4 linked regions of the Homo sapiens genome follow. The protein of the gene in region 2 interacts with the protein of the main gene of each other region in a pairwise test. Each region holds a gene or a part of one and is shown on either strand. Other genes may lie near its edges.

The links.
Region 1: the proteins of TIAL1 (region 2) and GRINA interact in binary tests that used the Homo sapiens proteins (3 or more experiments, as listed by UniProt).
Region 3: the proteins of TIAL1 (region 2) and MBNL2 interact in binary tests that used the Homo sapiens proteins (3 or more experiments, as listed by UniProt).
Region 4: the proteins of TIAL1 (region 2) and QKI interact in binary tests that used the Homo sapiens proteins (3 or more experiments, as listed by UniProt).

Annotation. Positions count from the first base shown.
Region 1 is NC_000008.11:143,985,281-143,993,140, reverse strand, and holds the start of GRINA (protein lifeguard 1), read right to left. Parts: upstream 3,086-7,860; 5' UTR 2,942-3,085; exon of another isoform or gene 2,830-2,941; intron 1,942-2,829; 5' UTR 1,918-1,941; coding exon 1,539-1,917; intron 1,450-1,538; coding exon 1,337-1,449; intron 1,264-1,336; coding exon 1,063-1,263; intron 897-1,062; coding exon 768-896; intron 677-767; coding exon 533-676; intron 450-532; coding exon 300-449; 3' UTR 1-299. Other genes in the region: protein mono-ADP-ribosyltransferase PARP10, read left to right, coding at 6,870-7,086, 7,166-7,420, 7,493-7,729, 7,813-7,860. UniProt on the Homo sapiens protein: Potential apoptotic regulator.
Region 2 is NC_000010.11:119,593,937-119,601,834, forward strand, and holds the start of TIAL1 (nucleolysin TIAR), read right to left. Parts: upstream 3,029-7,898; 5' UTR 2,530-3,028; coding exon 2,498-2,529; intron 2,057-2,497; exon of another isoform or gene 1,628-2,056; intron 154-1,627; exon of another isoform or gene 64-153; intron 1-63. UniProt on the Homo sapiens protein: RNA-binding protein involved in alternative pre-RNA splicing and in cytoplasmic stress granules formation. Shows a preference for uridine-rich RNAs.
Region 3 is NC_000013.11:97,344,259-97,351,401, reverse strand, and holds part of MBNL2 (muscleblind-like protein 2), read right to left. Parts: intron 4,599-7,143; coding exon 4,335-4,598; intron 1-4,334. UniProt on the Homo sapiens protein: Mediates pre-mRNA alternative splicing regulation. Acts either as activator or repressor of splicing on specific pre-mRNA targets. Inhibits cardiac troponin-T (TNNT2) pre-mRNA exon inclusion but induces insulin receptor (IR) pre-mRNA exon inclusion in muscle.
Region 4 is NC_000006.12:163,417,718-163,424,860, reverse strand, and holds part of QKI (KH domain-containing RNA-binding protein QKI), read right to left. Parts: intron 1-7,143. UniProt on the Homo sapiens protein: RNA reader protein, which recognizes and binds specific RNAs, thereby regulating RNA metabolic processes, such as pre-mRNA splicing, circular RNA (circRNA) formation, mRNA export, mRNA stability and/or translation.

The sequences.
Region 1 (7,860 bases), on a different chromosome or scaffold from region 2:
CCTGGGGTGGGCTGGCAGACAGGGCTCATGCAACAATGAGTAGACAGGAGGTGGCACGGAAACGTGGCCTTGGTGCCCCTTGGCGGGGGCGGGAGGACTAAAGGGGCCATGCTGTGGCCACAGCGGGTCCAAATGGAAGTATCTGCAGTGTACATACAGGAGGGTTGGAGAGAGGCATCCTTTTCCCTAGGCTGTGCCTGGGGACAAGAGAGAGGGGAAGTACAGCTGGCACTGCCGTGCCAGGGGCAGGGTCCAGGCCAGCCGTGCCACCTGAGCGGGCACAGCGAGCTGGAGCTCGGCTACTCCTTGGCGCGGCCAATGATGGTGAGGATGTACAGGAAGATGTTGATGATGTCTGTGTACAGGTTCAGCGCAGCAAACACATACTCTTCTGGGCTCAGGGACAGCTGCTTGTTCCCCAGTAGCAGCTGGGTGTCCACTGCGAGGAACTGGAGGTGACAGCACAGTGGTGTTGAGGGACAAGCCTGCCTGCCCAGCATCCCGCCCCCGGCCAAGGTCACCCCTCACTCACGCAGGTGAAGAGCAGAGCGCCCAGTGAGGCGTACACGATCTCCAGGATGCGGTTCCGGATGAAGATGCAGAGAATGGCGAAGATGAAGAGCACCACCATGCTCACCAGGAGCACGCCCATGCATGAGGTGAAGTCGTAGCGGGTCTGCAGGTGGGAGAGGAACGGGCCATGGGGCTGGGCCTGGGAAAGCTGCTCAGCCCCTGCGGCCACAGCCCAGCCACGGGAGGCCCCTCACCTGCATGGAGAAGATGACGACGGTGAAGCAGACGGCTGTGGTGATGCCCACGGCCATGATGACTGCCTCGGTGTTGTAGAAGCTGGCGATCATCCCCACCATGTACGACAGGCTGGCGGTCAGGACCGACTGCAGTTGGGAGACACAGGCTGACCTTGGGTGTGTGCCCCCATGCCACCCCTGCCGGCCCCTGCCTCATGAGCACAAGGAGAACCACGGTGACCAGGCCCGGAAGAGTGGGCGTGTGGGACTGCATGGCCGGACCCAGGCACAGAGGCTCAGGTTTGGGGGTTACCAGTGCAACAAGGTTCCAGGGGTGCTTTCGCCGGAAGTCCCCACAACAGCTGAGGACGATGAGAGAGATGAAGAAGACAGCATAGGAGACATAGTAGGTCCAGACATTCTCCCGGACAAAGCCCTTCACCTCCGCAACAAAAGTGAACACAGACACCGTGGACAGGGTCACCGACAGCTGCAAGGTCAGCACTAGGAACACCTGGGGAAGGAGCCGCTCAGAGTCATCCGCTGGGAGCCACAGCCCCCACCGCCTTGGAGATGCCCCTACCCACCTTGCGGATGAAGGCCTGTCGGATGCTCTTGTCATCCCAGTTGGTGGCAGGGAAGTCCTGGTTGTCATAGTAGGATGGGGGACCCTCCTCCTGGTAGTTTCCATGCTGGGGTGCTGAGAAGCAGACAGGCTGGGTCAGCGCCACTCACAAGCACCTCCCCCTGCCCTCCCGGCCACCCCACCCCTCCCTTCCTGAGACTCACAGTCAGGGTCTTGTCCTGGGAAGACCTGTGGCTGTCCATAGGGGTTGGGGGGGAAGGGGCTCTGGGGATATGGCCCCTGGGGGTAGCCCCCTTGGGGGTAGGGGCCCTGTGGGTAGCCCTCTTGTGGGTAGGGGCCCTGTGGGTAGCCCCCTTGGGGGTAGGGACCCTGTGGGTAGCCCCCTTGGGGGTAGGGGCTGGGGCCATGGGGGTACCCTGGCTGACCGTAGGGGGAGGGCTGGAAAGGGGGCTGTGGGTAAGGGGCCCCAGGGTAGGGAGGCTGAGCATAGGGGGGCATGGGTGGCTGGGGCCCCCCCGGATATCCAGGGTTGGGGGGAGGATAGTTGTCCCCAGACACCAAAAAACTCTTTTCATGGGACATGGCCTCGGGTTCCGCGGTCCGCCCCTAGAGAAGACAGACAAGGAACAGTGGAACAGTTGGCTTGACGACAGCGTCGGGACCCAGCCCTGCGCAACTCCACCTGCTTCTGGGAACCCAGGGGGAAGCAAGGGAAGACCGTGACCTTTGCCCCGGGCTGTGGGGAGCCCCGGAGCCTGGGCCCGGAGAAGCGCGTGAGGACCGGACGGGCGGCGCCGTGGGGCCTTCCCAGGGCTCTAGGCCGCCTTTAGGGTGGGGGAGGGGCCGGGCGAGGGGACGACCGCCAGCCTCGGGATTTGGGGCTTGGGTCGTTTCTCACAAGCAACCGGAGGCCTGCGCCGCTGCCGGCGTCTCCCGGGTGGGAGCTCAGCGCGGAGGCTGGGGTCTCGGCCGGGGACGTGTGGGGTGTGCCCGGACCCTCCCCTCCGCATCCCGCCCCTTAAGCAGCTTTAAGGGGCCGGAGCCGGCGGCTATTTCTATCCCAGGAAATCCCCGGGCCATCTGTGACCAACAAAGGCCCGAGCCCCCCCACCCCCGCGAGCCCAACAACAGGGCCCAACGGCCCCTGGCTCCGGGGTGGGGGGATCGGGCCTGGATCGGCTGCCGGTGCCTGCCAGTGGGGTACGCCGGGAACAGCGGGGTGCGGGGGTGTGTGGGGGATGGAAGCGACCACGGGGCGTGCGGGGAACAAAGCGGGCGTGGGGCGAGGCGGGTAGGGGCTGCGGCCGTGGCACTGGCACCGAGAGCGGATGGGCCCTCCGCGGGCCGGGGGCGCACAGGGTCACGGGTCCAGCAGTCGCCGCAGCGCGCCGCCCCCTCCCTCCGGCTCCAGGCCGCCGCGGCTCCCCGCCCCCACCACCGCCGCCACCTCTGGCCGCGAGCTGCCGCGCGCCCCGGCCGGACCAACTTACTGACCCGAGGCGGCCACGCTCGGATGCGCAAGATCCGCGTGGGGGCGGGGGCGGGGGCGGCAGGCCGCGCGGCGCAGCGGGTCAGAGGCGCTCCTGGGCTCGGGCCGGGGACTCACCGGTGGCCGGGCGCCGCAGGCCGGTACGCACGGTGTCCGCTGCGCGGCCGCGCGGTGATGGCCGATGCGCCCGCACCCGCACCCGCTCGGCGGCCGCTCAGCTGGGCCTGCGCCTGCGGCTCGGAAGACGCAGCGGGGCCTTGTGACGGGGCGGGGCAGGGGGCGGGGCCGGGCGAGCTTCGGGGTGGGAGGGGCAGGTGGGCGGGGCTTCCGCGGACCCCTCCCGCTGCGCCGCCTTGCGTGTTCCTCTTCGCTCCGGCCAGAGGCCCGCCTCTCACTGTCTGCCGAGGGGTGGGGTCGGGCGGTGGGCGCTGAAGACCCCTGGAGGCAGAAGTCTGGTCTGGCCAATTTGACTGGCCGTTCGGTAGTTAAGAAATTTATTCCTAAATGCGGGATTTGCTGAAGCTGCCCGGGACTGACCGTCCGTTCTCGGCCTTAAAACCCGACGTTCACTTCTTTTCATCCAGATCTCTCCCAAATCAAGAAGCCTAATCCTTTAGTTCCCAAATCGAGGCCTCGTGGTTTAATTGCCCCATTTGCTCTGTCAGCCCAAACTCTGCCAGGCCTGCTACTAGAGACCCTTTTTTATTTTTTTAATTCTTGTGGATACATAGTAGGTGTATATTTACGGGCTACATGGGATGTTTTGATACAGGCATGCCATGGATAATAATCACATCAAGGTAAATGGGGTATCCATCAGCTCAGGCATTTTGTCCTTCGTGTTACAAACAATCCAGTTATACTCTTGGAGTTGTTTTAAAATGTACAATTATTCTTGACCACAGTCACCCTTTGTACTAACAAATACGATGTCTTGTTTTCACACTAGAGACCCTGAACGCTCGCTTGTCTGCCTAACGTCCTCACAAGCTGCGAGGGGCTGAGGCTTGGGGATGCAGCAGGACTGGAGGCCAGGCCACCTCCCTGCTTAGCTCCCAAGTCCTCTTGGGGGAGCAGTGACTGACACAGGCAGGGTACATCCTGCTGCCAGCCTTCCCACCCGGGGCCCAGACCCCACCTGCCCTCCCGCCCTTGGAGGGCCGGCCTCTCCCAGGCCGCTCTGAGTCCTGCACCTATGGTGCGCTGGCGCAGTGTTTAGCAGCCGGACCTAGTGAGGGGAAGCCTGGGGTGCGTGTTTTGCACATGCGCGTGGTGTGAATACTCCACCGGGGCTGGTTTCAAGTTACCCCCAGCTGGACAACCAGTCCACAGAAATTCCCGAAACTGTACCAGTCTGCTTGTGGTGTGAGTGGTGCCTGTGGCAGGCCCTCTGCAGCCAGGGTCGGCGTAATGGATAACCTGTGATGAGTTCCATTAGAGAAAACGTGGAAAAAGCAGGGATGGATTTACCCTTGTAGAAGGTAACTTCTACCTTTGTAGAAGCAGAAGCTCACAAAATTTGAGAGACCTTTAAGAAAAATAAAATGCTTGCTGGGCGCGGTGGCTTACGCCTGTAATCCCAGCACTTTGGGAGGCCGAGGCGGGTGGATCACAAGGTCAGGAGATGGAGACCATCCTGGCTAACACGGTGAAACCCCGTCTCTACTAAAAATACAAAAAAAAATTAGCTGGGCGTGGTGGTGTGCACCTGTAATCCCAGCTATTGGGGGGGCTGAGGCAGGAGAATGGCTTGAACCTGGGAGGCAGAGGTTACAGTGAGCTGAGATCGTGCCACCGCACTCCAGCCTGCGTAACAGAGTGTGACTCTGTCTCAAAAAATAAATAAATAAGTAAATAAAAATAAAATAGCTGGGTATGGTGGCTGGCACCAGTAATCCCAGCACTTTGGGAGGCTGAGGCAGGTGGATCATCTGAGGTCAGGAGTTTGAGACCAGTCTGCCCAATAGGGTGAAACCCTGTCTCTGCTAAAAATACAAAAATTAGCTGGGCATGGTGGTGCGTGCCTGTAATCCCAGCTACTTGGGAGGCTTAGGCAGGAGAATCCCTTGAACCCAGTGGGTGGACGTTGCAGTGAGCCGAGATCACGGCACTTCACTCCAGCCTGGGTGAAAGGGCGAAACTCCGTCTCAGAAAAAAAAAAAAAAAAGGCAGAGTAAGGGAGATCATGCCAGAGGGGTGGCCATGGGGGTTTGTGGGGAAGGTAGGGCCAAGCAGAGGGAAGGGCCAGTCCCAGGCTACTGAGGCAGGAGTGGCCTGTAGCTCTGCAGGAAGAGCTGAGAGCCTGGAGCCCTCTGAGCATCAGGGTGTGCAGGGGGCATGGGGCCAGAGAAGGGACTGAGGTCTGGTCAGGTGCAGCTGGGCAGGGGGCAGGTCCTCAAAAGGACTTTGGGTTTTTGTTTTTTTTTTAGACAGAGTCTCACTCTATCACCTTGGTTGGAGTGCAGTGGCACGATCTCAGCTCACTGCAACCTCCACCTCCCAGGTTCAAGCTATTCTCCTGACTCAGCCTCCTGAGTAGCTGAGATTATAGGCACCTGCCACCATGCCCGGCTAATTTTTATATTTTTAGTAGAGACAGGGTTTTACCATGTTGGCCAGGCTGATCTCAAACTCCTGACCTCGTGATCCACCTGCCTCAGTCTCCCAAAGTGCTGGGATTACAGGCATGAGCCACTGCGCCCGGCCCCCAGGACTTTGGTTTCTACTGTTGCTGATGCTGGGAGCTGTAGCAGCTGCTGGTGTCATTTTACAAGGCTCACCCTGACACCTCTGTTGAGGACCCACCATGGGAGTGGCAGACAGAGACTAGTTAAGAGGTTAGCCTAGCTACCTAGCGAGAGATGCTGGAGGCTGGGACCAGGGTCGGGGCAGCAGAGGTGTGGCATGTGCAGGGCTAGGAGTGCAGGCTGGCCAGGGTCCTCAGCTCCCTGGAGGGAGGAACAGCAGGGGTGGGGCTGGGTTTTGGTGGGCTGAGGGGTGAGTGGGAAGTAGGAGATGGAGAGTGGTAGTGGCCACAGCTCTTTGAAAGGCTGGAAGCAAACGGAGCTTGGGTGATGTGGGAGATCTGTGGCGAGTGGGAGTGTGGACTCTGAAGGCACCGCCCAGGTTTGAGGCCTGGTGCTGCTATGGGCCTGTCTGCACCTCCGTTTCCCTTTCTGTGGTGAGGATTAGCGGCAGCAAGGAATGCAGTGGAGCCATTACCTTGTCACCTTCTGAGGTTACTTGTGACGATGCCAATGATGGTGTGAGATGGGGAGGTGCAGGCAGGACAGAAAGCTGCAGGAATGGGCAGGCAAGACCTGAGGCGGGAGGAAGGCTGTGCTGCAATGCACATTCTTGGAGACCAAGGGTGGGGAACCGCCCATGCTCAGCACCTGGCAGGTGTGAGGGACCAGGAGCAGGGTTGAGAAGGTTGCTGGGGGCGTTGAAGGCCAGCCTTGGCCGGGGGCGGGCCTGGAGACCCAGCACTTTGTGTGCAGAGGGTGTCATGGACACAGAGGCTTGGAGATCCTGAGTGAGGGGCAGTGACTCAGGCCCCTTGGTGGGTTTAGTGGGGCGGGTGATTGGCCATTTTCAGGCCATGGAGGCCAGGGGAGTGGAGGGCCACCAGGGGACACTCCTGTCTACCCTGCCAACCAGGGGCTGGAGTGGGCCAGGTAGGGCCGGTGGGCTGGGCTGGGTTGGCTGGAGGGTCCTGAGGGGTCCAGCCTGGCCAATACCTCCTGGTCAGCTGGGGGTTGAGGCTGCAGCAGGAGAGGAAGCATCTGAGCCCCAGTACCCAGGCCTCAGCGCCCAGGGCCCAGCTGCTCCCTCCCTCCTTCCGTCTTTCAGTTTCACTTTTGTTTTCCTGCTCCCAGCAGGGTTAGGCTTGCTGAGGGGCAGGCACAGGAGTCCTGGCTGAGCTCATGGCCTGAGGCTGCCTAGCGGCCACGGGGAATGTAAGTGCTGTATGTGGGGCCACCCATAATGGGGGAGCATTGAGGACACACCTTGGAGGGGCCTGGGGAGGGGCAGGAGGGGTGGAATGGGCTGTTTCCCTACCCACCTGATGCCCCGTCCCAGGGTTGCAATGGCGGAGGCAGAGGCAGGGGTGGCAGTGGAGGTCCGTGGACTGCCCCCTGCCGTGCCCGACGAGCTGCTCACTCTCTACTTTGAAAACCGCCGACGCTCTGGAGGGGGACCTGTGTTGAGCTGGCAGAGACTGGGCTGTGGGGGCGTCCTCACCTTCAGAGAGCCTGCAGGTGAGAGGGCTGGCTGAAGGGACAGCCTGGGTGCCCTGATATTCTAATGCCTGACATCCTGCCCCGCCCCTGCCCACAGACGCCGAGAGGGTCTTGGCCCAGGCAGATCACGAACTACATGGTGCCCAGCTGAGCCTGCGGCCAGCTCCACCACGAGCCCCTGCACGCCTGCTGCTCCAAGGACTGCCCCCTGGCACCACGCCCCAGCGCTTGGAGCAGCATGTCCAGGCCTTGCTGCGGGCCTCGGGGCTCCCAGTACAGCCTTGCTGTGCCTTGGCCAGCCCCCGGCCAGACCGGGCTCTGGTCCAGTTGCCCAAGCCCCTTTCTGAGGCAGGTGAGAGGCAGGGTTGGGGTTGAGGTGCTGGCTAGGGGGGATTCCCTGAGCTGACCTGCACATACCCCACAGATGTCCGTGTCCTGGAGGAGCAGGCCCAGAATCTGGGCCTGGAGGGGACCTTGGTGTCCCTGGCCCGGGTTCCCCAGGCCCGAGCGGTGCGTGTGGTGGGGGATGGTGCCTCTGTGGACCTGCTGTTGCTGGAGTTGTACCTGGAGAATGAGCGCCGCAGTGGTGGGGGGCCCCTGGAGGACCTGCAACGCCTACCCGGGCCCCTGGGCACTGTTGCCTCCTTCCAGCAGTGGCAAGGTGAGTGGGGCTGGGCAGACCCAGCCGACCGTCCCTCTCCTGCAGAAATCTGACAGGCTTTCTGTCCTTTCCCTTCCTCCAAGTGGCAGAACGAGTGTTGCAGCAGGAGCACCGGTTGCAGGGCTCAGAGC
Region 2 (7,898 bases):
TTAAAAAAGAACTTAATACTAATTTAATGAAAGAAGTATAATCACTGTAGAAATTCTGAGTACCTCTTATGTTCCAGGCAGTGAACTAAGTGCTGTGGGGGTAAGACCTAGGAAGATGTAGTAGTCCTTCTCTTAAAAAAAAAAAAAGGCCCTATGGAAAAGGGTGGGAGAAGGAAAAAGGAAGACAGAATAGTAAACACGTACTGACATACAAAACAACAGAGTTAAGATGTTTATTTATTCATATGAACATGTCACAGTTTTAGAGAACTGTAAACATAGACAACTTAACTGTTTCAAAGAAAGAACAAGAGATTAGAGAAGGTAGAGGAAGGAAATAAGTGACAAAGAAGTTAGCTTATTATTCCCCTGGAGAAACTCTGATAGGGATGAAGGCAAGGCAGATGCAAAGATAAATAAAAGACATCAAAAAAGCACATTCTTTAGCACTACAAAACCAGAGATTCCTCTTGGTAAGGAACAGATACAGTAAATGAGACCCCTGCCATGAGTATTTATCAATCATTCAGTGTGTGATGATACTTCAGATTTTTAGATACAATGTAACTTTTATCTTTGTTAAATACATGTTAGCTAGTCTTTAAGCCTAGCTTTCCCAGATGCTTATATCAAAGTACACATTGTAACTCAACACCAAGTCTTGGCTTCAACAGATGTTGAAGGATAAAATTTTTTTTTTAATTGTTTAGACGAACTCTCGCTCTGTCACCAGTCTGGAGTGCAGTGGTGCAATCTCGGCTCACTGCAACCTCTGCCTCCTGGGTTCAAGTGATTCTCCTGCCTCAGCCTCCCAAGTAGCAGGGACTACAGGCGCGCGCCACCACGCCCAGCTAATTTTTGTGTTTTTTGTAGAGACGGAGTTTCACCGTGTTGGCCAGGAAGGTCTCGATCTCTTGACCTCGTGATCCGCCCACCTCGGCCTCCCAAAGTGCTGGGATTACAGGCGTGAGCCACTGCGCCCGGCCTGAAGGACAAATTTCAAGTGTGTCCCAATTCTTTCTTCTAGGGAGAGAAGGCAGAAATGGAAGACAACACAAAACACAAAGACGTTCTATTAAGCAGGCGTTTCATTGAAGCATTGGATGTGCTTCAGTAGGCCTCAGATTCTCAAAACGGGACGGATACTTCAGTGAGACGTTAGAGAACACATTTATTCCTGTACAAGGCCACACCAAAAAAATCTCTATCAATACTGAACATCTATCTTCTTTACTGAGCATCCTTTCTTTGGTAGGAGTGAAGAGATGTGAAGCTAGTCAAACTTCTCGAGTGCCCCTCCACCTTCATCTATTCCCTAAAAAGCAATTTCCCCATCAGAGAGCAGAGCCAAGTGGACTATGATCCTATCAATACCAGGAGAGGCAAGAGAAACAAAGCAGCGATCTGACTCCTTGGTACTCAAGGTAGGAGTGCTAGACCTGGAGAGGCCGGGAAATTAGGGTGCCCAATTTAAACATTTAATTAAAAAGTATTCAGACTTAAAAAAAAAAAAAAAGATGCAGAGAAAAGGAGTGCCACACTATTCAGAAAGGAATGCAAATGCTGAGTCATCACTCTTCATTGGAAAGGAAGGAAACCAGAATTAAGTGGTTGGAAGATGGAATTCATTCATTAGATTGAGCTTCAGGTAAAAAGCAACAGCAAGACAGGAGAAAAAGCGTTCAGAAGACACACATCAAATAGCGGATGAAGACATAATTTTAGCCAACTCTGAAGCTTTCGACGCACAAACAGATTAGGAAGAGGCAACACCTAGAGAGCAAAAGGAGTTTAACAACTGGTTGTCAGTTTAGCGTAGGGAGCGCTCAAAGTAAACTTCTTTATCCAAGAAGGGAAAGATGCTCGGGCAGCAAAAGGTATCCCTTATGTACTTCAAAAGTAGCGGGCGCTAGGCGGGTGTTTCTGACAGCGTGGGCGGGGGCACGTGGGGCATAAAGAGAGAAGGGGCTTGAGTGGTGAAAGAGTGTCCTGCTTCCTCCGAGAGCTTAGCTGGGGAGAAGAGCTGGGAGCGACTCGAGCTGAGGACGTGGAAGGGGTGAGTGCTAATTCCTCAGGGCCCGCGGGGCCCACCCCCGGGCCCACCCCCAATCCTACCCCCGCCAGGCCCTTCCCCCGTGGGCGCCGGCAGCTCCAGGCCCAGCCCAGGGCGTCCAACGCGGAGGGGGTGCAGGAGTTCTCCTGGGCCTGACAGCCTCAGCCGTGCAGAAACCCGGCCTAGGGAGGGCATGCAAAGAAGGACGCCAGAGAAAAAGGTCGAGACAAGCCCCAGACCCCAGGAAGTGACTGTTTGGGGGAAGGGAGGATTTCCTTCCCAAGGAAAAGGGGACAGATGAGGAATGCACTTCGCGTCCACGCCGCCCTGGTCAGGGAGCCGCCTAGAGTCCCGGCTTCGGCCCAGTCTCTCCTGCTCCCTCCCTTAGCGTCCCGCGGTGCCCGGGCCTCTTGGCGCCTGGCACCCCTCGTCTCGGGTACTCACAGAGTCCGGGGCTGCCCGTCGTCTTCCATCATGGTGGGTGCGACGGAGCGATCCCGGGACAAGGGGGAGGGCAGGGTTGGGGAGGGGAGGGGGTGGGGAGGAAGGGGAGGGGGGCTCTGGGCACCGGCTGGGGACAGAGGAAAAGGCACCGAACCCTGCTCTCGGGCTCTCTCCCCCCAGCCCGCTCCGGACACTGCGCTCCAACCAGGAGGAGCAGGAGGAGGAGGAGGATGAACAAAATGGCCGCCGCCACCAGCCAGGCAGGAAACAGGGCAGAGCGCAGGCGCGACCCGCCAGGTCACCGCTCAGGCCAGCCGCGACAGCCTGCAAGGGGGACGACCGAGGGGAGAGAAAAAAGGGCCGCCGAGGAAACCCTGGGACCCGCTCACGACGGATCACGTCGTCGCTGTGGGCCTCTGGCCGGCCGAAGCCCAGCCAGCTCCGGGAGAGATCGGGCAAAAAGAGAAACGTCGTGAAGCCGAAGTCTCTGGGAATTGTGGTCCTGGAAATGAGAGAGGGAAGCACTTCTGCAGAGGACTTCTGGAACCTGTGGTTAAGAGGAGCCGCCGGCGCCCACCCGCGCTGGGACGTGAAGAGGAGACTTCTGGGTAGTGTAGTCATACGTGAGGACGTGCGACGACCAGGAAGTCGGCGGGCTGGGAGGTAAAGGGAAGAATAAAAGCGACATTGAAAGGCGGGGAGACCAAGTGGGGAAAAGCGCTGTCTGGGAAAGCGAACTACAAGTCCCAGAGTTCCTCGCGCCGGGGGCTGTCCTCGGACTGCTCCAGGCATTGTAAGGCTCTTCTGTTGGCCCAGTCTGAGCTGCTGCTCCGCCTTCGTCCAGCCCGAGAGCGGTTTCTTCAACTGTGGCTCAGGCAGCACTCTCCCTCCGCGTGGTGTCCGAGCCAGCAGGGCCGTCCGGCCCTCCTGTGTTCATCAGAACGGCTGGCTCGCGTTAGTCAACCGCCGCTTCGCGCGACAGTCAGAAGAGAGGCTGTGCTGGCGGGGACCCGGAGGGGTTGGGGTGTTTTGGGGACTCGATTTCCCACAAATAGGTATTTCTAGCCTATTTGTTAAATACAAGTAGGTGGCCTGCTTGTAAATTGCTTTACAAGTTTCAGAGGTTTCCCTATCAAATGTCTCATCGGATAGTGGGGTAAGAAGAGGAGCCCTATTATAATGACTTGCCCAACTCCCCCCGTATTCTTGGAGTTAAAAGAAAAAAAAATCCTTGGGCAGAGACGTGCACAAACATAAAGTTGCGTTTACAGACATCAGTCATGTGGGCTAGAAACGCAGTTTTGCATGAAGATAGGGGAAGCCATGTTCATACTAGCTCTGCATCCCTGTAGAATTTGTCTTCTCACCCCCCACAACAGTTCCTGGTGTGCTTTTTTCCTCCTCTAAGTACCTTCAGGAGAAAGTACTTGGTCTTGTAGCTTAGTGAAGAGTGGCGATGAAGAAAGATCTTTCAGCCCATTGCCAGAACTTAACTGCCCCGGTTAGTAATGGCTTAAGAGTTGCTTCTGCCGACATGTACTAAGTGCATGTCGACCTCTGCAAGTGGCGGTGCGTATGCGTGCCACTGAACATTAATCTTGAAAGCAGAATCAACCATGCAGCAAGCCCTTATGTTGTCCATTTTCAGGGGAGGAAATTTCAACCTGAAAGACTTCATAGAGACACGGCAAAGGAGTTGAGCCCCATAAGAGTCCGTAGGAACAACAAAAGGCTCAGACGCCAGGACCCATGGCTAAAATGTATGGGCTGGGGATGCGGGCGGGAGCGGGGGGAAGGGAACTAAAGCTAGAGAGGACCTTGTAGAACCGTGTTGTCAAGAATCTATTTCATGCTGAGGAATTTGAGCTTTCTCTTCCAGGCAGTGAGGAGCCACTCAAAGGTTTTGTCTATGTTTTTAATTGGACCTAGGTGTAGAACTGGATTTAATTATAATCCAATTCATTAACCCATGCCTGGCCCGCTGTGATAGTTTCCTGTTGATGCTGTAACAAATTACTGCAAATTTAGATACTTAAAACAACACGAATTTATTTTCTTACAATTCTGGAAGTCAGAAGTCCAAAATCAGTTACACTGGGCTAAAATCAAGGTGTCGGCAGGGCTGGTTCCTTGCCTTTTCCAGCTTCTAGAGGCTGCCTGCATTCCTTGGCTCTTGGCCCCATCCTCCATCTTCAAGAAAAGAAGCATAGTATCTTCTTTCTTCTCTGCCTCTGTACGTACATCGTGATTCTCCTGCCACCCCTTTTCATTTACGAGAACCTTTTGTGATTACTTTGGGCGAAGATTATCTCAAGATTCTTAATCACATCTGCAAAGTCCCTTTTAGCATAACATTCCCAAATTCTGGGAATTAGGACATAGAAATCTTTGGTGGACCATTATTCAGTTTACCGCACCCACCTTTATTACTTTAGTTTTGATTATAGCCACAAACCCACCACACTAAAAAGTTATAATGACACGAGTTTATATCTGTATCTATGCTATACCTCCTACACACAATAACACACACCCCTGCCTTCGCTTGGGGTAACCATCTTTCTGAATCCTGTCTTTACTATTTATTGCTTTCCTTCTACAAGGTTTTATTCCACATGTACATAGTCCTAAAAATCATATGTATATACATGTATATTTGAGTTTTTTTTTAACTTAGTAAAAAGAATATGCCCACTACAAACTAGAATGGTTAAAATGGGCATGTTTACTGGCAGTGAAATTATTAAGGTTAAAATCCAAAACACTAACACCACCAAGTGCTGGTGAGTATGAAAAGCAACAGGAACTATCATTCTTTGCTGGTAGGACTGCAAAATGTTATAGCCCCTTTGGAGGACAGCTTGTCAGTTCCTTACAAAACTAAACATAATGCCTAGGTACTTACCCAAATGAGCTGAAAACATGTTTACATAAAAACCTGCACACAAATGTTTACAGCAGCTTTGTTCATAATCATCCCAAATTGGAAGCAACTAAGATGTCCTTGATATAAGTGAATGGATAAACTGTCGTACAAGGTGGTACATCCATGCAAAGAAATATTGTTCAGTGATTTTTTTAAAAAGAGCTATTGATATGGTTTGGCTCTGTATCCCCACCCAATCTGATCTTGAATTGTACTCCCATAATTCCCACGTGTTGTGGGAGGGACCTGGTGGGAGATAATTTGAATCCTGGGGGCAGTTTCCCCCAGACTGTTCTTGTGGTAGTGAATAAGTCTCACGAGATCTGATGGTTTTATCAGGGGTTTCCGCTTTTGCATCATCCTCATTTTCTCTTGCTGCCACCATGATTCTGAGGCCTTCCCAGCCATGTGGAACTCTAAGTCCAATTAAACCTCTTTTTCTTCCCAGTCTGGGGTATGTCTTTATCAGCAGTGTGAAAACAGACTAATACAGCTCTCAAGCTACAAAAAGACATGGAGGAATGTTAAATGTACAGCACCAAGAGAAGCCCAGTGGAAAAGGCTGTAAACGCTACAACTTTAACTATATGACACTCTGGAAAGGGCAAAACTCAGTGGTTCCCTGGGCATCAGGGAAGGAGAGAGGGATGAATAGGTGGAACACAGGTCATTTTTACTGGTAGTGAAATTATTCAGTATGATACTCTCATAGTGGATACATGACCTTATGCATTTGTCAAAACCCATAGAACTGTGCCACACAAAGTGAGTCCTAATGTAAACTATGGACTTCAGTTAATCATAATGTATCAATAGTTGTTCCTCAGTTGTACATTTGTTGGAATTGATGAACCAATATTGATACATTGTGATTAACTGAAGTTTATATATCAATTATGAATTGATATACTTGTTAACACTAATATAAAACAGTAATAACAGGGGAAACTATGTTTGTAATGGGAGAGAGGGCACATGGGAACTCTGTACTTCATGCACAATTTTTCTATAAACCTAATACTGCTCTCAAAAGTCTATTACAAAGGAAAAAATTATGTCCTTGTAATCTTTTGAGACTGCTTTTCACTTAATTAACACACATAAGATTCAGCCATATTTTATGGCTATCATTCATTCAGACTATTATATGATATTCCAGTGTATAAATATACTACATTTGTCTGATTTCTCATTAATGGATATTTGGGTTGCTTCCAGGTTTTTATACTGTGAATAATGCTGCTATGAACATTCTTTTTTTTTTTTTTAACCTTTCTTTATTTTTATTTTTTTTTTTGTTTTTGAGATGGAGTCTTGCTCTGTCATCCATCTAGAGTGCAGTGGTGCAATCTCGGCTCACTGCAACCTCCGCCTCCCGCATTCAAGCGATTCTCCTGCCTCAGCCTCCTGAGTAGCTGAGACTACAGGTGCCCGCCACCACTCCTGGCTAATTTTTGTATTTTTAGTAAAGACGAGGTTTCACCATGTTGCCCAGGGTGGTCTTGAACTCCTGACCTCAGGTGATCCACCCGCCTTGGCCTCCCAAAGTGCTGGGATTACAGGTGTGAGCCACCACGCCCAGCCAGCTATGAACATTCTTGTGTCTCCTGTGATAGATGTGGAAGAGCCTTTCACCCCTCAGCCATTAGACCACCAGGGAGTGCAAGAGCTTTTCTTTGATCTATTTGGATCTATACCTAAAAGTGAAATTGTCAGGTAACAGGGTATATGAACACTCCATTTTGGTGGGTAACATCAAACCTTTTTCCCAAAGTGAATACACAAATTTGTACTCCCATCAGCATCGTTTAAGAGACTCTGTGAGCGGATCCACATTTTCTTCAGTACTTAGTTTTGTAGTCTGACAATCAAAGTATTAGCTCAATGTGGTCTTAATTTTTACTTAATCAATAAAGTTGAACATCTCCTCATATTCTGTTAACCATAAGTTTCCTCTTCTGAAGCATGCCCATTGATATCTTTTGCCTATTTTTCTATTATGTTATATGTGCTTTTCTCAATTTTTTAGGAATTTTTGATGCTAATTCTTTGTTATATATGTATATTACAAATATCTTCTCCTAGTTTGTAACTTGTCCCTCTCTTTTTAAAATGCTTTTGATGCCAGGCATGGTGGCTCACACCTGTAATCCCAGCAGTTTGGGAGGCTGAGGCAGGTGGATCACCTGAGGTCAGGAGTTCGAGACCAGCCTGGCCAATATGGTGAAACCTCGTCTCTACAAAAATGAGCCAGGAGTGGTGGCATGTGCCTGTAATCCCAGCTACTTGGGTGGCTGAGGTAGGAGAATCGCTTGAACCTGGGAGGCAGAGGTTGCAGTGAGCCAACATCGCTCCACTGCACTCCAGCCTGGGCGACAGAGCAAGACTCCATCTCAAAATAAATAAAATAAAATGGTTTTGATGAACAAAAGCTTTTAATTTTAAAATGGTCAAATATCTTTATCTTGAGTGTAT
Region 3 (7,143 bases), on a different chromosome or scaffold from region 2:
TCTTGCTAGAAGCTAATGCAGCTGGTGAATTTAAATTGAAGCCAATGCTCATTTACCATTCTGAAAATTCTAGGGCCCTTATGAATTATGCTAAATCTACTCTGCCTATGCTCTAGAAATGAAACAACAAAGCCTGGATGACAGTATATGTATTTACAACATGGTTTACTGAATGTTTTAAGCCCACAGTTGAGACCTACTGCTCAGAAAAAAAGATTTGTTTCAAAATATTACTGCTCATTGACAATGCACCTGATCACCCAAGGGCTCCAGTGGAGATGTACAAGGAGATTAATGTTGTTTTCATGCATGCTAACACAACAGCTGTTCTGCAGCCCATGGATCAAGGAGTTATTTCAACTATCAAGTCTTATTAATCGAGAAATACATTTTGTAAGGCTGTAGCTGCCACAGATAGTGATTCCTCTGATGAAGCTGGGCAAAGTAAATTGAAAACCTGTAAAGGATTCACCATTCTAGATGCCATTAAGAATATTCATGATTCATGGAAGATCAAAATATCAACATGAACAGGAGTTTGGAAGAAGTTAATTCCAATCCTCATGGATGACTTTGAGGGGTTCAAGACTTAAATGGAAAAAGTAAGTAACTCCAGATGTAATGGAAATAGCAAGAGAACTAGAATTCTTAATAGAAGTCGAGCCTGAAGATGTGACTGAATTGCTGCAATTTCATGATAAAACTTTAATGGTTGAGGAGTCGCTTTATGGAGCAGCAAAGAAAGTAGTTTCTTGAGATGGGTTCTACTCTTGGCTAAGATGCTCTGAACATTGTTGAAATGATACCAAAGGATTTAGCAAACTATATAAACTTAGTTGATAAAGTAGCAGCAGGGTTTTAGAGGACTGTCTCCCATTTTGAAAGAAGTTCTACTCTGAGCAAAATGCTATCAAATAACATTGCAGGCTACAGAGAAATCTTTCATAAAAGGAAGAGTCAATCAATGTGGCAATGTTCATTGTGTTTTAAGAAATTGTATTTTTAAGAAATTACCACAGCCATCACAACTTTCACCAGTCACCACCCTAATCAGTCACCAGCCATCAACATCGAGGCAAGACCTTCCACCAGCAAAAAGATACGACTCACTAAAAGCTCTGACTATTGGTTAGCATCTTTTAAGCAACATTTTAAAATTAAGGTGTGTATATATTCTTCAGACATAATGTTCTTGCACATTTAATAGACCACAGTGTAGTGTAAACATAACTTTTATATGCACTGGGAAACCAAAAAATTCATGTGATTTGTTCTATTGTGATACTCGCTTCATTGCAGTGGTCTGGAACTGAACTTTTACTTGAAGGACTAATATTTCCATTATCAGGGCCTCATTCCATACCTCAGTGACCAAGGATAGCCACTGGGACCCAGGCTGAGTCAATCACAGCATCCTGTCACTGACCACAGGGACAGCCACCAAAATGACCTTTAACTTCTTCCCCTGCCCCAATACCTAATTAGAGCTGGTATAAAAGACACCATTCTCTCTCTTGTCAAAAGATGTAAGAATACATCCCTATAGAGGTCCAAAGCCTTGGTCCTGGGTCTTGTAGAGAAGCTGACCTTAGAGAATGGTGTGGCCATAGTAAGAGAAGCAGGCAGGGGAAAGAAGAGAGTGACCTGTTGGTTCTGAAGTTTCTGAACCCAGGCGTTCCTGAGTCCATCTCTACTAAAAATATAAAATTAGCTAGACATGGTGGCATGCACCTGTGGTCCCAGCTCCTCGGGAGGCTGGCGCATAAGAATCACTTGAACCTGGGAGGCGGAGGCTCCAGTGAGCCAAGATCGCACCACTGCACTCCAACCTGGGTGACTGACAGAGCAAGACTCTGTCTCAAAAAACAAATAAATAAACAAATTTTGTGGAAAAATGTGTTCTTAGTGCCCATCAATCAACACACCAATTAGGATAAGTTGGAGCTGGCCTAAAATAATGATTACAATGAAAAAAAAATTTGCTTCCTATGGGATGAGATCCTCACCAGGTTGATAGTAGAATGGATGTCGCATTGGCAAAATGTGTAAAAGATCTCATTTGTGCTCTGAAAGAATTCCTTTTTTATCAGCCTTAAGTGATCAGTTTACTCTCCTCCTCCCATTCCCAATTATAATGAGTTTCGGAAACTACTCTTTTACTAGAAGAAAAAAAGGGAGAATTTCTCTATTTTATTGACCCTCTTGTGTGGATACATACATCTCCACATATATAGGAATTCACACTCAGCAAAATAAAAAAATATTAGGTCCAATAACATATGAATGAGAAGGACGAGAGGAAAGGACACTAAAGGGACAAGAAAAGGACTCAGAGATTAAACAAAAACAAAAACAGTGATTTAGATGACGAGGCCAGTGCTCAAGGTGTATGGAAATAAGCAGCTCAAATTGGAAAGGTCTCTAGAACCACACACTCCGCACCTGGTGGTGATTACCTCAGGGCAGATGGTGCCTTTCTCGCTGTATCCCTATCACTGATCACAGGTCCATGCCTTAATAAACATTTGCGCAAACAATGTTGAGTAATTGTGAACTTGTTTGTGTGACAGCTACCCTTCCATTTTAATCAGTAATCAGTGTATGAGGTGATGGCTGAGGTGATGGCTGCTAACTAGAACAAAGTGTTTTCAAACTGTACTTTTCATCTCTGCAGTCATAGCTCTCCTTCTTGAGGGAGGACTGGCCACTGAGTCCTTCATGCCCTCTGGACCCGATTAACTATTTCTATCATGTCACTGAGGAGCATGTTATTGCTCTCAGTTACTAACTCCAAACTCCTTGAGGGCAAGGAAACCTGACTGATTTATTTATTCTACCCAGCAAGTGCCTGATGCATGGTCTCATAAAATTTTTTGAAAGAATGAATGCATAGTGCCTATCACATATTAACATAGACTTCTGATAAGCCAGAGAGCTCACATGAAAACAAATTAATTAGAAACTTCTGCAACCTAATGCAGAAGTTCTCAAGCTTTGCGATGCATTGGAATCACCTGGGAGCTTTTAAAAACTGCCACTGTCGCCAGGTATGGTAGCTCGCACCTGTAATCCCAACACATTGGGAGGTAAAGGTGTGAGAATTGCTTGATCCCAGGAGTTTTGAGACTAGCCTGGACAACATGGTGAGACCCTGTCTCTACAAAAAAAATTAGAACTTAGATGGGCATGTTCCCAGCTACTCAGGAGGCTGAGGTGGGAGGATCACTTGAGCCCAGGAGTTTAAAGCTACAGTGACCCATGATCATTCCACTGCACTCCAGCCTGGGTGACAGAGACCTTGTCTTAAAAAAAAAAAAAAAAAAAAAATCCCACTGCCCAGACCACACCAGACCAACTAAATAAGAAAATAAGAAACTTCAGGGAAAGGGACAGATGTCAGGTCAGACCCTTCAGGTTGTTCCAAAATGTAGCCAAGTTTGATAAGCAATGTCTAGGCAGGTGCTTCTCAAATGTTAATGTGCATACAAAACACCTGGGAGATGTTTTACAACTTAAATTCTGATTCCCTGAGGTCTGGGGTGAGGCTGAGGATTCTGGAGGCTCCACAGGCTTCTAGGTGATCCTAATAATGGTGCATCTGGTCTCTAAGGGACAGTTAGGCTCTCCGAGATTCTGAGCAGGCTCCCAGGCGATGATAATGATGATGTACTGCTGGTCTCTAATGACAGTAGGGTGACTCAGGGAAGCAAGCCTAGGTCACAGGTCTTTTTTTCTTTCTGCACCAGCCAGGATGGCTCCACTTTCATCTGTTTCATGCATTGCTATTCTGCATAAAACCTCATTGAGATGGGGAATCTGACCAGCATTGCCCTTGTAATAAGTGAAAGAAGAGGAGAAAATGGGAGTAGCGAAAAGCCAAATCACTCTCTGGGCTTCTCTTAGGCCACAGATGTCCTCCGTGGCTGCTCCAAGGAGCTGGGTGCCTCCTCGTGCTCAGGTGCAGAAATGCACCTTTCTTTCCCCTCTCCGAAGCGGTGCCCACCTTCATGTTCATTACAAGGCCCCTGAGCCTCTCTTAAAAAGACCCTAAGTGAGCACACTCAATCTCCGCCACCCTAGGAGGGGGAACGGAGCTCAGGGACCCCAGGACTTTCCCTGCACCTGAGGGATTTACTTATTGTGCTGAAGGGGGGCAGGAGGGGAAAACAAAACAAAACAAAAAGGGGGAAAACAACAGCAAAACTTAGGCAGCGGAGCAGCAGGAATAGCAGCCTTCCATGTTTCCCGAGTGTTTGGAAGAACATCCAAGTCCCAGCCCGGAGCGGCCTCCGCAGAGGCGCCGGGGTGCAGGGGCGGCGGGCGGCCGCACTTACCATGACTGTGGCCGCGGCCGCGGCTGCCTGGGCGGCCACCGCAGCTTGGTTGGCTTGGTGCTGCGCAGCTTTGATTTTGGCCTGCAAGTGTGCAGGAGGGTGAAAATATTTGCATTTCTCCCTCATGCAACGCCCCTTTATGTAATCCATACAAACGGTTACGGTGTTGTCACTTGTGTCGATCATGGTGCTGTCTGCGGGGTGTGCAAAGCGGCAGTCGGTCTCTCCCCGGGCACAGTTTCCTCGCTGGAACTCCCTGCATACCTAAGACAGGGAAGAAGAGCCGCGCTGCAGAGGCAAGCCTGAGCCCAGGCGCCCCTGCGGCCCCGGCCACCGCGGGAGGAGCGGAGGCTGCCTCGCTTTCAATGGTGGCTCATGTACCACTGACAAGAAAAGATTGATTATGCGGAGCCCAGGTAACCACAATCTCTGACACAGTCATTTGAGTTTTGTTTTACCGCCTTTTCTAGGGTGAAAATCTATATTGAGAAAATAATACGAAATCTGCAGTTCAGCTAAAATAACAAAGGAAAAGCAACAAGGCCTCCATTGTCCCTGGGTAGCATATTATGCAGCTGTCTATCGATCTGTCTGTCTGTCTATCCATCCATCCATATATCTATCATCTATCTATTTATCCATGCATCCATTCCTTCATCTATCATCTACCATCAATCAATCTATCCAATCATCTATCCACCTGTTCATTCATCCATCATCTATTATCTATCATCTATCAATCTATCCCTCTATTATCTATTATCCATCTATCTATCCATCCACCCATCCATCTATCCATCCATCCATCCATCCATCCATCCATCTATTATCTGTTAATCTATCATTATTTTTAATGGTAAAAACTGCAATTACTTTTGCACCAACCTAATATTATCTATCATCTATCTACCTACCTACCATCTATCTATCCGTCCATCCAGCCAGCCATTCATTCATCCATCTATCATCTATCCATCCAGCCATCCATCATCTATCATCTACTGATCTATCTAAAATCTATCAATTAATTAATCATCTATCTAATCTAGTTACCTACCTATCTATATACCTGCTTACCTACCTATAATCTATCTATTTAATCTGTCAATCACCTATAATCTATCTACCTCTCTCTATATCTTCAATCACCTACTTGTATGACAATTCTGACAATGCTATAGGTTTTTTTTTGTGTGTGTGGAGGGATAATTTCACCTATATCAAGCTACCAGGTCATAGCTGTACAAAAAGAATCAGAGAAAATGACGACAAACTTGTTCCTCCTCTCTCTAAGGGGGTGGGGTGGGGTGGGGTGGGGGGAATCTGAACACTCCTGTTTCCCACTCCTTCTCTCCTGCTCTACAAAGATAACATAATCATAAATCAGAAGAACAATATCTAAGACACCAAAATTTTCATTTTTAAGGTCACTATACTATTTTTGACAGCACAGAAAAGAAAAAAAAGACAAAAGGAGAGAAATACGGCAAGAGATATAGAGAAAGAAAAATGGAGGGAAATAGTTTATTTTAAAAATTCTTTAATGCTAAATTATCCTGAAATCTCAAGTAACTAGGATTCTCTATCCCCTGAGAATTCTGGTGGATCAAGATTTTACTGTATGAAAAAATATTTCTTTAGAATTTGAAGAGTATTCTTAATTATGCCCTGCATATAGATAACATAAAATAGCATAAATAACATATGCATGTTGCTTATATAATTCTTCTCTGCTCATAAATATTAGCAGGAAATAATTATGAGTAGAATCGTAAGTTATTTATTTTTAGGCTCCAATTCCAAAGTGGATATGTAAATGATCATCACGCTGATCATTAGTGATGTTATATGAAGGGCCCCTGACATGAAATTCAAGTATTGTGGAAGTCAGACATACTTAGGAAATACTGTTTCACTGACCAGTGACCAGGCCAGCTTGAAGGTAGATAGCATAAATCACCAGATTGTTAATTGTTTCCTCCTACTTTGGATATTAGCCAACATTCTAACTTTAGTTCATAAAATGCGCAAAATAAATCACTAAGATGTTCCCACGGATTCTGAGCAAGCCTTCCTCCATCAATGGAATGACTTCTGTCTGATAGCATCATAGGTGTGGACCAGCCATCAGGCTCCTACCAAGGTGCTTTGTGTGCAGCTGACTTCATTCCTGGTTTGAAATGAACCAAAAGCCGCTCTGCTAAAATCATTGTGATTCATTTTTACATGTCTTTGTCTACCAGCCCTGTTGAGAAGGACAATTTGTTCCCAATTCCACTGATTTAATTTGTTTTCTAAAGTACAGTCACATACTGAACACAAAAGCTCCGTGGGTCCAGCAGGTGGAGCCCAAAACACTTTTCCAGTCCTGTGAAAGGTCTATTCAGTAATTGACAAGGGTAGGCTGGATCTTTTCAAAATAGTAACAATTAGAGTTTCCATTCTCTTCATCTGGGCATCCAGATTGAAACTAAGTGAAAAAATAAATATCTTCTAAAATATTTGCAGTTTGAAATTCTGAGTTTTAAAACTTGCACAGGTTATTAGGCAGCCACATTTTATTGCCTTCAAGGTTTATTGGGTTAATATTTAAACAAATGCACATTGAAAGAACATTCTCTAATAATCCCACTAACAGAAAGCACTGTGTACGTCCTAACCAGATGCATCACCTAACACCTTTAATCAGTAATGGAATTAAAGGAGCTCTCTGAAAAATCTATGAGAATCTTTATACACCCTTATGAAATGCTGTAGTGAATATCATAGGGATATAGCAGTAAGATACATAGATGAGTTCTACAGCTCT
Region 4 (7,143 bases), on a different chromosome or scaffold from region 2:
TCAGGAGTTGGAGACCAGCCTGGCTAACATGGTGAAACCCTGTCTCTACTAAAATACAGCAATTAGCCGGGTGTGGAGGTGCACGCCTGTAATCCCAGCTACTCGGGAGGCTGAGGCAGGAGAATCACTTGAACCTGGGAGACAGAGGTTGCAGTGAGCCAAGATCCAGTGCTTTGGCAACAGAGAAAGACTCACACAAAATTAAAAAAAAAAAAAAAATTAAAAACCAAGCAGTGATGCTGCTACTTTATAGTATGAGAGGCTCTTCTGAATACCCATCAACTTCAGAGTATTTGGATTTGAGGTTGGCAGGGCAGTTGATAATTTCATTCACAGATGAAGAAGCTTGAGGTTCAGAGACATTAGTTATCTCACCCAAGATCACCAAACCAGTTAATTGCGGAGTCATGATTAGATCCCAGGTCTATAGTACAAGAATGCTTACCACTTCATCACAGGGTCTCATTAGCATATGCACAAAAACATAAATTCATTTCATCTTTATGCTGGCTCACGCATGTGCAGGCACACACATACAGAGTTAAAACTTGAATACTCTCATGATAATGGCATCACTGCAACCACGGTGGAATCAGCGACAATAGACAATTAGATGCGGTTTCAGGGTAATTTTTTTGATCCCAGTTTGAAATTTTTTTTTCTTAAAAAAATGTATTCACCTGCCATGTAACAACTGTATCAAAGGGATATAATTGCTGTAACATAGCAAAGAACTGTGGCTTACATTTAATTTGTTTGAATTATTTGAAATGAGCAATCATCCCCCAGATGCTGGCATCAGGAATACGATATAGTAGCTACCTGGTGGCTATCTGGTGCAGCACCGTTTCCATTCAATTCATAACCATCCACCTCCTGGGTGTCACTCTTCAGTTATCTACCTGATATATCATTGGGCTGTTTACCCCAGGCTGATCTAAAACTGATACAAGTATACATTCCTAACTTGAATCACTTAGCAATAGCATACTTCTCTATTAAATCACCCAGCCAAAAATGTTTCCTCTTGAGTAGTAAAAATAATAGCAGCAACAATTTTTACATTATTCAAAAAACTGAGGCTCTAGCCTTTGCTTACAAAGAAGTGAATGAGCTGAAATCCTCTAAAAATGGCTTTCTCACTTTTAGCCTCTTAATTAGAAAGTTATCGTTAAAAATAAATTCTAGTTCTAAGAATCTGACCATCATTTGTTCAAAACCAGCATATCACAGAATTAGCAAAAAATCATTTGGTTTGTCTTCTTTACCTTCACAACTTGAGGCAACAGCAGCAGATTTTTAGCATATGGAAATATTCCAGGTTTTTCCCTCCAGTTCCCCTTGTGGAGAGGCACGCCACAAAATGGAACAGAGGGCAGAAGTGAGTGTCTTGCTCTAGCTCTGCTGCCCACTTGTCTTTGCACCTATGAAATGAACATATACTCCCAACTCTCAGGTCCCCTGCAGCTCTAAAACACAATTCTCTGATATAATCTGCAAAGTAAGTTTGAGACCCTGTAAAACTATGACATTGAAGAGTTTACAAAAAAGGTTCCAAATTTTATTTGTTTTTGAGATGGAATCTCGCTCTGTCACCCAGGCTGGAGTGCAGTGGCGCAATCTCCTCTCCCTGCAACCGCCGCCTACCAGGTTCAAGCGATTCTTCTGCTTCAGCCTCCCAAGTAGCTGGCACTGTAGGCACACTCTACCATGCCCGGCTAATTTTTAGCAGAGACAGGGTTTCACCATATTGGCCAGGCTAGTCTCGAAATCTTGACCTCGTGATCCACCTGCCTCGGCCTCCCAAAGTGCTGGGATTACAGGCATGAGCCACCTCACCAGGCTCGGTTTCAAATTTTAAAATTGCATGTTTGTTTTCTTACTATGCATTTCCCTAATTCTACTCTTAAAATGTATTATTTTTTGTTTGTTTTTTCCTATATATTTCAAACTATAAAATCAGCTTAAAAACCAAGGGCTCCCCAATGATTTGCTACTGACCAGGAGATCAGGCCCAGTCTCTACAATGACCTCTCCTGCACTAAAGCAAAAGCGAGGTGCTTACTTAAGGCCAGCTACTTATTCAATCCCGGGGCCAACCTTTCTCAGCTGGAACTTAACCAGCCCCAGTACTCACAAAGCCCAGCTCACATTCACTGCATGTCTTCACTTACAGATATAAATGCCTGCACACACATGCCCTTTACTTACATTGTGACCATTATGTGGAGCCACTTTATGGATGTAACTGCATTTTGATGTTTTATTTTTTAAGACAGGGTCTCACTGTTGCCCAAGGTGGAGCGCAGTAGCATGATCATAACACTGCAGCCTTGACCTCCTGGGCTCAAGCAATCCTCGCTCCTTAGCGTCCCAAGTAGCTGGGACTACAGGCACACACCACCACATCCGACTAATTATGTTCTTTCCGATACTTCAATATCTGCTTATCTGCTAAGCAGAATATGACACATTCTGCTTATAATAAATAATGTGATATAAATCTTACAATCGATTCATTTCCCCAGCCTCAAAATTTAGTTCTACAAAAATATTAGACTAATACATGAAGCAACTTTATGAACATAATTTATTTTGTTAGACTTGATAGGATTGCCGGATTTTCAAACTAGAGTTTCCGCATCAAGAAACTGAAGACGAAAACATTAAGTGCAGTCCTTTTCTTGCTAATTGTAAGAATTCTAGATAAATCACTTCTGCAATATATTTTTTAAAAATTCATCACAGATTTTCAAACACTGTTACTGCTAAAGCACAGTAATAAACAGTTTAGAGCTTGGTGGCTCACGCCTGTAATCCCAGCACTTTGGGAGGCCGAGGCGGTCAGATCATGGGGTCAAGAGCCGAGGCGGTCAGATCATGGGGTCAAGAGTTCAAGATCAGCCTGGCCAACATGGTGAAACCCCGTCTCTACTAAAAATACAAAAATTAGCCGGGCGTGGTGGCGGGCGCCTGTAATCCCAGCTACTCGGGAGGCTGAGGGAGGAGAACTGTTTGAACCCAGGAGGCAGAGGTTGCAGTGAGCCGAGAGCACGCCACTGCATTCCAGCCTGGGTGACAGAGCGAGACTCCAACTGAAAAAAAAAAAAGAAAAAAGAAATAAAAGAGCTTAGTTTCAGCTAAGTGAAAACTTCAATTTATCAGTTTTCTAAGTAATGGCACTGTTTAAAATTAAAAGACACACCTGTGTTTAAAAACATAGCTATTTGTGTTAAATGACAATCAGCCACATATGATTATACTCAGCTTTCTTTTAAACTAAAATCACTCAATCAAATACAGTCGTTATCCTGAACACACCAAAGCAGCACTTAGGGACAAGAAATCATTCCTATCTATTGTGCCCTGCATGGAGTACAAGAACTATATATGTGGGGACTTTTAAAAGGGTAACTAACGGGGTGGGGAGTTTACCTATATAATTCCATAAATGCCAAAATTTTCCAAGAGCTGAGATGAGCACTGGTAGTTTTTCTCTGCTTATGAATTGATACCCTTTGGTATAAGGACTGACAAGAAACTATACTATTTAAGTAAAGCAATTTTATCTTCCTAAATCTCCTTCCCAACAATGACAGTAAAGTAAAATTAAGCACCTTGGCAGCAAGTACTACAAATAACATGACATGTTTTTAAGTTGTTTTTAAGAAAACATATAAGTGCCTTTTCCTCTAAGGGCACAAAACTATCAACAATCACACAACTGCTTCATTTCTTAAAATTATTAGACAATATTTCTAATGTCACTTTCAGATTTTCATTTTTTTTTAAACCATGTGCACATACCCTATCTTTGAGAAACTAGAAATCAAAAAAGGAGGTAAGATGTCAACATGTTTAATTCAACAAACATCTGAGAAGTGTATGCCAGGCTCTAAGGTAGGCACCTTCAAGAAAGTAATTTTAAGAGGGCAGACAGGTAATAATATTCCAATGCTAACTATAATGATCACTCCATAGAAGGTAGTACCTAACACAGACTGGGGTTATAAACAAATTTCTTAACAGTCCCACTAAGATAACAAACTATATTCACCATAAAAGTTTATTGTTAGTTGTGATTTTCTGTTAAGTAAAAAATATAACTGTAAAACACGAAATAATCTAGCTATTGTGGGCCCAAAACTTTTTTAAAGGGGTATAAATATTCCCTAAAAGTTATCATTAAGGGTAAACAACACATTATTGCACTTAAAATTCACATTAAGCTGTCTTAATGTCAAACACAGGAGGGACTGGAGAAAAAAATGAAGTCCCGTTGATCATGTAAATAAAAAGCTGGTATATATCTGTGTGACCTCCTAACATAGGCCCACTCACCACTCCCCATCCCTTGGCCTTAAAATAGAACCTTGGATATGTTCATAACAGCTGACATACCAATAGCAGAAAGTTGCTCAGTGGGCTGCCTTTTAAGTTATCAACAAACAAAAACCAACAATGTCACAGCATTTTCCATCTCCAACAGAGAAGGGCAAGTTTTGCTTACAACTGCAACATCAAACAAATAAATCAAACAAATGTATTAGCTACACCGAATTTCTCAAGTAAATTAAACTGTAGTTCCAGTTTATAAAAAGTTGCTCCTATGATCACACTGGTGTAATTCCCTTGATATAAAAACCAAACCAAACCATAAAAAAAAAAAAGGAAAGAAAAAAACCACCAAAAAAAAAAAAAAAAAAGAAAAGAAAAGAAAAGCCCTTACATGTCTAAGTATATTGGCCTCAAAAAAAGAATCTGAATCATGCTTCGGTGAAGGCCAGGTCAAAGCATGAGGGTTTTATTATACTTCACTTCTTTCATCACAGAAATCTATTTCCCTGAAAAAGGAAACCAAAAACCATTTGCTCTTATGGGAAACTGACCAATTTCAATCAGCTCCAGGACAGCGACAGTGACTAGTGAAGCATTAACAGAAATATAATGTGCATAAAGCATTTAAGAAGTCAAATTAACTTGATTTAACTTGACATTCTCAGTCATTTAAGAAAAAGTGTTCATCCCAAAATACACTCGTAAATGTGACTAGCAAAGAGACCTATTTCTATCAACTCAACTGTGTTACAGTCGGATACAACTTTTACTACAAAACATGTAAACTGGATACAGTTTCCAAAGGAATCACGTTCCACCTACAGGGGAATTTAGCTTTAAAAGTACAGAATGAATGTTTAATAAATGCCCCATAATGATACAACTGATCTTTTCCGTGACTGCCAATATATAGCTGCTGACACCTCCTGGGTGAGAAAAGATAATGGAAAGAAGTGATTATAAATAGTAGCTTCCTTCTTGCTACAACTAATTCAAGGACTGTGTACAAAAGCAATATCTTAGTTTCTAAAGAACAGATTATTTCACCTTAAAATCTGTTTGTTACAGATGATGATTACTGACAACAGTAATTGCTTCTTCAGACAAAAAGAAAACCTTTTTGTAAGAAATCTGTATAGCAAGAGTCCTCTCAATACCAACCACCATATAATTCTTAAGTCAAGGCTTTTGTAAATGAATTCTCAGGAAAAAAAAAAATTATGGTAAGAAAACCTTATGATACATCCAATAACAGAGGCAGAAGAAGTGAAAATAAACATTAACATGAAAAAATAGCAACTATTTAAGCAAGTTTTAACGAAATATTTTTACTCATATATTTAAAGGAGAGGGAGCAGGCAGGGTATAAACTAAACTGAGGTCAGACAGAAAGTTTACTGTAAACACAAAAAGACCATCAGAAAATGAAAATATATTTTCAAATCAGTAATACGGCATTCTAATCCATCTGCTCTCTTTTTCTGAGCCACACACTAATTTTTCTGATATCCACGATAAAAAGATTGACTGTTCTTCCTCATTACACATTTTTTATTTCCCTATCAGCAGCTTTAAGCCCACCTCCACCTAAAAAATTGAAAACTCAAAATCAGCTTTTAAAATACTAGTTCTCCATTTTCCCCTAATACAGGATTGTTAAGTCTAATAGACCGTACTCTTCACCTTCTCGATTCTAAATTACAAAACTTTATTATAACAATTTGCATTCAACTACTGTTGTTTCATTCTCATGACAAGAAAAGTCTGTTTTTTTAAAAACCATATATTAACTGCTCTAAGGGTTCAGTTGAAAACGTCTCTCTAAAGGTAGAGCAGTTTAAGACCTAGGTTTTATGTGTAATCCTATAATCATCTCTATCTTCAATAAAAGGTTTCAAACTCAAGTTTATGTCCTTTATATTTTATGATGGGCCCAACCTAAAATGTATTCACAACTTTAAAAAACAACCGTGTTGAAGATACTTCAGTGGAAGAGCTGGCACACACACCCCCACCACCAGCAACAGCAAAAAACAAAACAAAACAAAAACAAGCAGTAAAACAAAAGGACTGTCCACAGTCAAGATACAGACTAAAGGTTAACTTGGCAAGGAATTAAAATACTCATTCTAAAACATCCAAGTCTTCATCAACTGGGAAAACCAGCACACTTAATCCTCAAATTTGTAACTAGCCAAATGGAAATTCTTAGGCTGACAAGCATATTTTTAAAAAGCTTATTCTTTGAAAAATATTTTAAAATAAAAAATTTAAAATCTCATTTAAAATTCCTAATTATCAGAAAATACATCTACTCTAAGCACGATGTTAACTTCATCAAACCAATCACTAAAGTAAAATTTTTACTAAATTTTATCTAAATTTAAAAGTAATTTTTCAGCCAAGCATTATAGGCAAAAAAAAAAAAGTAATGCCTAACCAGAAACAAAAGTCATGATCAATTTGTTTTGGACAATGACAAACCACAAAGGGGTAAAGCACAAGATGCCAAATTTCACAATTAAATCATCCAGAAAAAAAAATGTGATGGACTTCAGAAACCAATATTTTTCTTAAGTCAAATTAAGTTTATAACAAGGCTAACAATTACAGGAAGCCGCTTATTCCACACTAAGGAATAGCCCTTTTTCCTGCATGTTTGTACTGGTCTGATAAAAAACAATCAAACTTCCTCGTCATTATATTGCCCATTTTAAACATACTATATGCCACACAGAAGCAATCTTTACACTGGGGAATTGACAAGGCTAAAACTAAAGATAGCAAGACAAGAGATGGAGTAAA